Homo sapiens: one gene and its partners. The protein of the gene in region 3 purifies or fractionates together with the protein of the main gene of each other region. This does not show direct contact. Each region holds a gene or a part of one and is shown on either strand. Other genes may lie near its edges. The genes, in order: ATP6AP2, HK1 and WDR1.

Region 1 (3,655 bases), on a different chromosome or scaffold from region 3:
ATTAGCCAGGCGTGGCAGGTGCCTGTAATCCCAGCTACTCGGGAGGCTGAGGCAGGAGAACTGCTTGAACCCAGCAGGTGGAGGTTGCAGTGAGCCAAGACTGTGCCATTGCACTCCAGCCTGAGCAACAAGAGCAAAACTCCGTCTCAAAAAAAAAAAAAAAAAAATCATCAACAGAATGGAATTGTGGTATATCCCTACAAGCAGAATATGTAACAGTAAAATGACTAAACTACAGCTACATTTGTCAGCCTGAGTGAATCTTAAAAAGAATACTGAACAAAGAACACAGAAAAATACATGTAGTATGATTCAATTTATATAAAATTCAAATACAGGCAAAACCAAACAACACTGTTTAAGAACAAATACATATGCAGTCAATCTGTAAAGAAAAGCAAGGGATTAACATGATATCCAGGACAGCAGTTACCTCTGGATGAGGGAGGGTAGAGGGAGAAAATAGGGAGCTTCAAAGAAGCAAGCATTCTCTTAAGCTATTGATATGGTTTGGCTCTGTGTCCCCACCCAAATCTCATCTCGATTTGTAATCCCCACGTGTCGAGAGAGGGACCTGGTGGGAGGTGATTGGATCATGGGGGCAGTTTCCCCCATACTGTTCTCATGATACTGAGTTCTCATGAGCTCTGATGGTTTAAAAGTGTGCCACTTTCTCTCTCTTTTGCCACCTTGTGAAGAAGGTGCCTGCCTCCCCTTCCCCTTCCTCCATGATTGTAAGTTTCCTAAGGCCTCCCCAGCCATGTGGAACTGTGAATCAATCAAACCTGTTTCCTTTATAAATTACCCAGTGTCAGGTAGCTCTTTATAGCCATATGAAAACGGAGCTATACAGTGTTATTATTTTTATTATTTAAATAACTAGTATTAAATATGTTATATACTTATGTATGTATGATCCACTTAACACTTTTTTTTAAAATACAGAGCTGTGTAAAAACATTGTTTGGGAAACTGAATTCATTCTGACAAAGGCACTGTTTGGGAAATATCATTCATTCTGGCTAGAGAATTTTAAAAGTAGGAACACAGCAGGAGATGAAGCTAGAAGCAGGGAAGCTACAGAAAATCTGACATGAGCCTCTGGGCAATAAGGAGCCATTGACAAGCTTTAGGCAGAAAGTGAGTGACATGATCAGGTTTGTCTTAAAAAGATAACATTAAAATTAAAAATTAGCTGAGTGTGGTGGCTCAAGCCTATAGAACTGGCTACTCAGGAGGCTCAGACAGGTGGATCACCTGAGCCCAGGAGTTTGAGGCTACAGTGAGCTATGATTGCGCCACTGCACTCCGGCCTGGGACAGGGCGAGACCCTGTCTCAAAAAAAGAAAAGAAAAAAGATAACTTTGATGACAATGTGTAGGATGGATTTGGGAGGAGCCAGCTGGGAAGCAGAGAGACAGATGAGTTCAGACAAGTTAGGAGGCGGCAGTCAAATGAGGTGGGAGAAATGGGGGCAGGGTGCCTGGCAGTGAGGATGAGAACGAAAATGTAACCGAGATCTATTTGTCCCTACAGCCCCAGCACCTGGAATGTTGTGAGTACTCAGTAAATGTTCCTTAAACTCCTGTCTCCTTAAACTAATGGAAGAGAGTGATTTCAAATGTAGGAGAGAATGGGTACACAGGCATGCATATTTACCTGCGGGGAGCTCAGAGCTGAGGCAAACGTTAAAGGATTTCACGCCCATGAAGACCTCTTTGTTTCTTTCCTTTTTTTTTTTTTGATAAACATGTTCTTTTTCCTACCCATTTTAAGTGTACAAGTCAAGGAATTTTAGTGGTTTCATAGTTATCACCACAATCTAATTCTAGAACATTTCTATCACCCTAAAAAGAAATCTCATAGGCCGGGCATGGTAGCTTACACCTGTAATCCCAGCACTTTGGGAGGCTGAGGTGAGCAAATCACTTGAGGCCAGGAGTTCAAGACCAGCCTGGCCAACATGGTAAAACCCCATCTCTACTAAAAGTACAAAAATTAGCCGGGTGTGGTGGTGCATGCCTGTGATTCCAGCTACTCAGGAGGCTGAGGCAGGAGAATCACTTGAATCTGGGAGGTGGAGGCTGCAGTGAGTTGAGATTGTGCCACTGCACTCCAGTCTGGGTGACAGAGTAAGATCCTATCTCCAAAAAATCCAAAAAAAAAAAAAAAAAAAAAAAAAAAAGAATTCTCTGGGAGGCATCCCCACTCTCAACACATGTGCTGACCACCCAGAGCCCAGGTGCCTTTCTGTTTCCCTGTGCTGGTGGGCAAAAATTTCCAGTCTACCCTCTCACTGAGGGCACAGCTCTCTCGGGGTCCCCAGCTTTATCTGGAGTTGTCCATTCCCATCCCCCACACACAAGGCACCAAAGGACTCTTGGTGACCCAGCTGGCAAATATCCTTAGGGCGGCCTGCTTACCACATTCGGTTTTTTTTTTTTTTTTTGAGATGGAGTCTCACTGTGTCACCCAGGCTGGAGTACAGTGGCACAATCTCAGCTCACTGCAACCTCCGCCTCCCGGGTTCAAGCGATTTGTCTGCCTCAGACTCCTAAGTAGCTGGGACTACAGGCGTGCGCCACCACGCCCGGCTGATTTTTTGTGTTTTTAGTAGAGACGGAGTTTCACCATGTTGGCCAGGCTGGTCTCGAACTCCTAACCTTGTGATCCACCCACCTCGGCCTCCCAAAGTGCTGGGATTACAGGTGTGAGCCACCGCACCCGGCCTCCTCTTCTTTATTTACTCTGTAAGAGAATTTCCCTTTCTTGCGAGCTGAACTATGTATTTTTATTTTTGTAATTTTTTTTTTATTTGAGACGGAGTCTTGCTGTGTCTCCCAGGCTAGAGTGCAGTGGTGCAATCTTGGCTCACTGCAACCTCTGCCTCCCGGGTACAAGCAATTCTCCTGCCTCAGCCTTCCAAGTAGCTGGGATTACAGGTGCCCGCTACCACACCAGGCTAATTTTTGTATTTTTAGTAGAGACGGGGTTTCACCATGTTGCCCAGGCTGGTCTAGAACTCCTGGCCTCAGGTGTTCCGCCCGCCTCAACCTCCCAAAGTGCTGGGATTACAGGCGTGAGCCACCACACCCAGCCCAAACTATGTACTTTTTAAAAGATCTTTATTTTTATCTAGCATTTCTAGACGTTTTATGGTGGGAAATCTTGGGTGGTTGTCTAGACTGACATGCTGTCTGAAACAAAGGTCCTTCCATCCCCAATTTAATTTAGAAAGAAACAATCTCAAACCAGTAATCGCTAGACTATCTCAAACAGGCACTGGCTTCGACCTTCCGACTCCAAGTCCCACACTGACTTCAGTAAAACTGAGCAGGGTGAGGGCTGCAAATGGGTCTGAAGCGGAGGTGTATGTAATTGAGTGGATATCTATCTGCTGCAAGTGATACAGCCAGCCCTAAGCAATGTTCTCAGACGTAGGATGTTAGGGAGCATCTACACTACTCTTTCCCATCACCCTCCCTAGGTTCTGCTGCAGCTGTAAGTATATATGTATGTATGTAAATGTGCACGTACATACACATAAACAGATATGTATTTTACCATGGCCAGCAACCATGGTAATGCTTAACCCTGACCCTCTAAATGCTTAAAATCAAAGCAAGATCCATACCCAAAAAAACTGTTAAGTAAA
Region 2 (3,655 bases), on a different chromosome or scaffold from region 3:
GCAGGCGGATCATGAGGTCAGGAGATTTGAGACCATCCTGGCTAACATGGTGAAACCCGATCTCTACTAAAAATACAAAAAATTAGCTGGGTGTGGTGGCATATGCCTGTAATCCCAGCTACTTGGGAGGCTGAGGCAGGAGACTCACTTGAACCCAGGAGGTGGAGGTTGCAGTGAGCTGAGATCGCGCCACTGCACTCCAGCCTGGCCTGGCAACAGAGCGAGACTGCATCTCAATAAATAAGTAAATTACTTACTTTCCTTTTATCCATCCTTTATGTTGGGGCATTATATTGATTTATTTGAAATTATGTGTGTAAGAGGGCCATATGGATTCCATTTCAGATGGTAAAGATGCACTACACATACTTGTATTGGGGGTGCATAGGGCCCACCTGGATTTATCTGAAAGGCAGCCTGGGGTTCAGTGCCAGGCCACCCAGGAGCTGATGCCCCTCAGCAAGTTGTTCCACCTTCTTTCTACTTTTCTCCTGTCCAGGGTACATTTCTTCCTGGCCTTTGCTGTCTTCTAAGGCACGCTGTGTGAGAAGGAGGAAAAAAGGGTCAGAAAAAACAAAAGCAATTGTGCAAATACTGTGTTCTTCTTAGAATGGTCATAATAACCTAACGTAGGCTCTGTGTAGGCTGGGCACGGTGGCTCATGCCTGTAATCTCAACACTTTAGGAGGCCAAAGCAGGTGAATCACTTGAGTTCAGGTGTTCGAGACCAGCCTGGTTAACATGGCAAGACCCCATTTCTACAAAAAGTGCAAAAACTAGCCGGGCGTGGTGGCACATTCCTGTGGTCCCAGCTATTTGGGAGGCTGAGGTGGGAGGATGGCTTGAGCCCGGTGGCGGAGGTTGCAATGAGCTGAGGTTGCACCACTGCACTCCATCCTGGGCGACAGAGACAGACTCTGTCTCAAAAAAAAAAAAAAAAGAGAAAGAAAAGAAAAAAAATATTAAACCTTAAACAAAAAAAAACCTAACAAGCCTATACACTGCTCTTACCCAGGCAAAATGGTTTTTAAGTATACAGTTCGGTGACATTAAGTACATTCACATAGTCGCACAGCTATCACCACCATCCATTTCCGGAACTCTTTTCATCTTCTCAGCTGAAACTCTGTACGCAGCAAACACTAACTCCACATTCCTCCCTCCCCCCACCCCAGCAACCACCATTCTACTCTCTGTCTCTATGGATTTGACAACTCTGGATACTTCATATAAATAGAATCATACAGCATTTGTCCTTTGTGACTGGCTTAATTCACTTAGCATAATGTCTTAAGGTTCATCCGTATTGTGGCATGTGTTAGAATTTCCTTATTTTTTTATTTTTATTTTTTGAGACGGAGTTTCACTCTTGTTGGCCAGGCTGGGGTGCAATGGTGCAAACTTGGCTCGCCATAACCTCTGCCTCCTGGGTTCAAGCGATTCTCCTGCCTCAGCCTCCTGAGTAGCTGGGATTACAGGCGTGCGTCACCATGCACGCCCGGCTAATTTTGTATTTTTAGTAGAGATGGGGTTTCCCCATGTTGATCAGGGTGGTCTCAAACTCCCGACCTCAGGTAATCTGCCCACCTTGGCCTCCCAGAGTGCTGGGATTACAGGCATGAGCCACCACGCCCGGCCATAATTTCCTTATTTTTAAGGCTGAGTGATATTCCATTGCATGCACACACTGCATTTTGTTTATTCATTCATCCATCCATGGACACTTGGCTTGCTTCCACCTTTTGGATATTGTGACAAATGCTGCTGTGAACACGGGTGACCAGTATCTCCTTTCAGTTTGTGTGTGTGTGTGTACGCACCCCAAGTGGACTTGCGGGATCATATGGTAATTCCCTGTTCAGTTGTTTGTGGAACCACCATGTTGTTTTCCACAGTGGCTGTAACATTTTACATTCCCACCAGCAGCCCGTGAAAGTTCTAGTTTCTCCACATCCTCGCCAACACTTGTTATTTTCTGAGTTGAGAATAGCCATCCTAATGGGTATGAAGTGGTATGGAAAGTCTTTTCAAGCATAATAGCAAAGAAAGAAATCATAAAGAAAAATGGCCAAATATAGCTACATAGTGTCTGTAAGTAAAAAAAAAAAGTAATCAAACTTAAAAGGCAACGGTAAACTGAGGAAGACATTTGTACTGTGTATGACAAGACGCCTAGCAGGGCATGGTGGGCTTTGGCAGGTCTGGTCTACACCTGCTCTTCTCCACCGGCTGTGTGCTTTGCAATACTCAATTTCTCCCAGCCTCAGTTGCCTTATCTTTAAAATGGGAATAATCATACATTCATTGGTTGTTTGAGGAGTAAGTAAGGTAATGTATGTAAAATATATGTTACATGGTAAGTCCTCCAAGAAGCCTGGCTGGTCTTCATTGTACCATCCCAGTTATCGTCTCTTTCAATTTAATATAAATAAGACAAATATATCAGGAGAAAAGTCTTGAGACGTAAGAAGTAGTTTATATGGCCAAAAAACAAATGGAAAAAAAAGAGATCATCCTCACTAATAGAGAATAATATAAATTGAACTACAGTCTTGTGATGCCTTCTTATAAAACTGTCAAAAGTTGTAAAAAAATGCTCTTTTCCAGTGAGGATAAGTGTGGCCAAATACTCTGCTGAAGAGTAAATGGATACAATTTTCTGTAAGGCATCTGGCAATGTGTAGCAAAAGCTCGTTGACCCAGAAATTTATCCTAAGGAAAAACATCAGAATTGCACACAAAGATTTATAAACAAACCTTATCAAAATGTTTCTTTATAATAGCAGAAAATTGCAATTAACTTGAATTTCTCCAAGCTGGCTAAAGAAATCATGGTGCATCCCTAGAGGGAATACTGCAGCAGCTGTTTCCAATCCTGTTCTCAGATAAGGCTGTGGGAAATTGCTCAATGCATGAAACAGGAAAGAGAAAGAAAATCACATATCAAGGATAATCCCATTTTGCATATCATGAGAAGCATACCAGCTAGGAAAAATAAACTGGAAGGAAATATATTAAAATGTTAATAGCATTTTCCTAGATGTTGAGATAGTGAATGGTTTAGATTTTCCAATTTTTATTTTGCTAGATTTGCCAAATTCTCCACAGTTTAACATGTAACACTTGCCCTTGACTCTGTCTGTGGATGAGTACAGTGATTGGGGGCGGGGGGCGTCCTTTGGACGTGGTCTCCAGGCTGCTCTTGTGGGTCCTGCTTCATCCAGCCCTCTGGCTCTTGTCCCCCACAGTGACCGATTAGCACTGCTCCAGGTCCGGGCTATCCTCCAGCAGCTAGGTCTGAATAGCACCTGCGATGACAGTATCCTCGTCAAGACAGTGTGCGGGGTGGTGTCCAGGAGGGCCGCACAGCTGTGTGGCGCAGGCATGGCTGCGGTTGTGGATAAGATCCGCGAGAACAGAGGACTGGACCGTCTGAATGTGACTGTGGGAGTGGACGGGACACTCTACAAGCTTCATCCACAGTGAGTGGGCCTTCCAGTTGGGATGCGCAGAGCTTGCTGGGATCCCTTTGGGTTAGGGGGTATCAGGGTGTGGTTTACGCTGGGGAAATGCCCTGCGGGAGCCCAGCCAGGCTGAAGGCTGTGCGTTCAGGAGCTGGGGATTGTCTAGGACAAGGTAATGAACAGTTTGTAGG
Region 3 (2,635 bases):
CCCCCGTGCTCTCTGTCCTTGGTATCTGGGTGATTTGGGGACAGTGTGAGCTGTGTGAGTACCGGGGCTGTCTCAGGGAAGGCGAGGGGTCAGGGGAAGGATGGGGGCAGTCGGGGCGTGGGACCTGCTCTGGGGCCCAGCCACGCCATCTCCTGCCACCCAGGGCTGGAGCCTTCCCCTCCCCTCCTCGGCACTTCCCCCACCTCACTGCCCGGGTGCCCACAAGACTGTGGACAGTGAGGTAGAGGGAGTGCCGAGGAGGGCACAGCTGTGCCTCAGAGCCAGCCCCATGAGTGGCGGCAGGAGGGGAGCGCAAGAGGGTAGCAGGTCAGGAAATCAAGGAATGGCATCCCCTGGGGCTGGGCTCGGCTCACAGGTTGAAGGAAGAGTGACAGAAGTTTCCCAGCATCTTCAAGGTGCGGTACTAACCAGACATTTTACAGTTTCCCTTGAGTTCTGCCTCGGCATAATTCTCATGCCCTTGAATTTGTGTGTGTGGTCTGGTCACAGTGTGCCTGGCCAAGTCCTGAGTGCTCTGTAGAAGAGCTCATTTCCCCTCTCCAGCCCAGGAGGGCAGCCCTCTGATAACCCAGTCCTGCAGCAGGCGTGGCAGTGCCCTCCATGCTAGGGGCTGGGTGGGTCTATGTGCTGCCAGGTCCTTCAGGTGCCGGATGTGACCAGGGCATGGAGTGGCTTCCTCCACCAGCCAGCTTGAGGGCCTCATGAGACCAGCGGTGCCCCGAGGTACCAACAGCTGTTTTCATAGAGCTGCGTAGGTTTCAGGCCCATCCACGGGAAGAGCCATGCCCAGCTCCTGGCATGGGCCCAGCAGAGCAGCAGTCAGTGGGAACGGCACAGTTTCTTAAGCCCTCGACCCCCCCTTCACAAAGGATGGGTGTGGTGTGTGTGTTCAGGGGTGGCTCACTTCCTCTCTGTCCCTGCCGTAGGACGGCAACGTCCGCCTGTATTCCATCCTGGGCACCACGCTGAAGGATGAGGGCAAGCTCCTAGAGGCCAAGGGCCCCGTGACCGACGTGGCCTACTCCCACGACGGCGCCTTCCTCGCGGTGTGCGACGCCAGCAAGGTGGTCACAGTGTTCAGCGTTGCTGACGGCTACTCGGTGAGTGGCGGCGGGCTCCTCCTCTGTCCCCGTGCTGGGCGGTGCAGGTGGCAGTGGGAGGTTATCTGTGACTTGGTGACCTTGAGCTGAGCCTGTCTGAGCTGTAGTTTTCTTGCCTCTACAAGTAGCAGGTGCCTCGTGCCATGCTTCTGAGGAGTCAGTGGGTTTGCAGGGGTCGCTGGCATAGAGTTAGCGCGTGAGAAACCTCGGTCCTTATTGTCGCCATGAGGGATAAGCGAGGTGATATGGGCAACTGCGGCCTGAACCTGACCTGCCACCTCTCTTGTTTTCAACCTGCAACTAGGAGAACAATGTTTTTTATGGACACCATGCAAAAATCGTCTGCCTGGCCTGGTCCCCAGACAATGAACACTTTGCCTCCGGTGGCATGGACATGATGGTGTATGTTTGGACCCTGAGTGACCCGGAAACCAGAGTCAAGATCCAAGGTGACTTCCGCCCCCAGGCCTTGGCAGGGACCACCCATGGTTCGGGGCTCCATGGGCCACCTCACAGGCTGTCCCCTGGCTTCAGTCCCCAGGGCTAAGTAGCCTCTGTGCTTCTAGACAGGTGGCCCGGAAGAGTTGTGGGTCTCCTTCCATCCAGCAAACACCAGCTGCGCTGCTGGCCGTACTGAGGGACCACGGGGGCCCCATGCACAGGACACCTGCTGAGCTGAGTGAAGGCCTCACTTTTGACATCTTCACTTCCCCCACTCACCCCTTAAATCCCACCTGGGACCAGGGTCTCCCCCTCCCTAAGACAGCCACGTCCAGTGTATAATGTGAGCCTCATGTGGCGTTGAAATTTCCTGGTAGCCACATTTAAAAAAGAAACAGGTGAAATGATTTGTAACAGTAGGTTTTATTTAGCCCCGCATGTCATCATTTCTCCCTGAGGGGGTTGTGATGTCCCCGCGTGGCCATGCACGTATTGTAAGGCAGCTCTGTGTTGTCCAAACCCTCCCCTCCCCGAGTGCCCCCCTACCACTCTCCTCCTAGTGTGTAGTCAAGTCCCCTCATCCATTCTCCTTGAAGACATCCTTTTGTGTTAAACATTAATGGGGCCCTTTCCTATTTAAAAATGTCTGAGCCCACCCCCAGAGCCCATTCCCCAGCTGCAGGCTTCAGGTGCAGGACAGGCAAAGAGGGAAGGCAGCCCGGTCTGGAAGGGAGGAGAGACAAAGCAGGTTTCAACGTCCGTCCTGGTTTATAAGGCAATCGCCAGTCTGGTAGTGAGAATCAAACAAGTTCATGAATGAAATGGATCCAGAAAAAAATACAGCAAGAGCTAGTCAGATAGAGATTAGGAGGTCGGGGTCTGTGTCTTCACTGTGAGGTCACAGGCCACCAAACATGAAGTGACCTCAGCATCGGGTTCTCGTGCAGATAGTTGAGTTCTGCATCTGGAAAAGAGCCAGCCTGGTGATGTGGACAGAGTGCTAAAGCCTGGCCTCACAGCCAAGTCATGCTTGGTGGTTGAAGGCGCTCCTGGGCACCTGTGCCACCCGCAGG

What was found.
Region 1: the proteins of WDR1 (region 3) and ATP6AP2 fractionate together in Homo sapiens (co-fractionation; one large-scale study listed by BioGRID). This does not show direct contact.
Region 2: the proteins of WDR1 (region 3) and HK1 fractionate together in Homo sapiens (co-fractionation; one large-scale study listed by BioGRID). This does not show direct contact.

What each region holds. Positions count from the first base shown.
Region 1 is NC_000023.11:40,601,444-40,605,098, reverse strand, and holds part of ATP6AP2 (renin receptor precursor), read right to left. Parts: intron 1-3,655. UniProt on the Homo sapiens protein: Multifunctional protein which functions as a renin, prorenin cellular receptor and is involved in the assembly of the lysosomal proton-transporting V-type ATPase (V-ATPase) and the acidification of the endo-lysosomal system.
Region 2 is NC_000010.11:69,395,347-69,399,001, forward strand, and holds part of HK1 (hexokinase-1), read left to right. Parts: intron 1-3,248; coding exon 3,249-3,482; intron 3,483-3,655. UniProt on the Homo sapiens protein: Catalyzes the phosphorylation of various hexoses, such as D-glucose, D-glucosamine, D-fructose, D-mannose and 2-deoxy-D-glucose, to hexose 6-phosphate (D-glucose 6-phosphate, D-glucosamine 6-phosphate, D-fructose 6-phosphate, D-mannose 6-phosphate and 2-deoxy-D-glucose 6-phosphate, respectively).
Region 3 is NC_000004.12:10,076,239-10,078,873, reverse strand, and holds part of WDR1 (WD repeat-containing protein 1), read left to right. Parts: intron 1-181; exon of another isoform or gene 182-263; intron 264-947; coding exon 948-1,121; intron 1,122-1,425; coding exon 1,426-1,570; intron 1,571-2,635.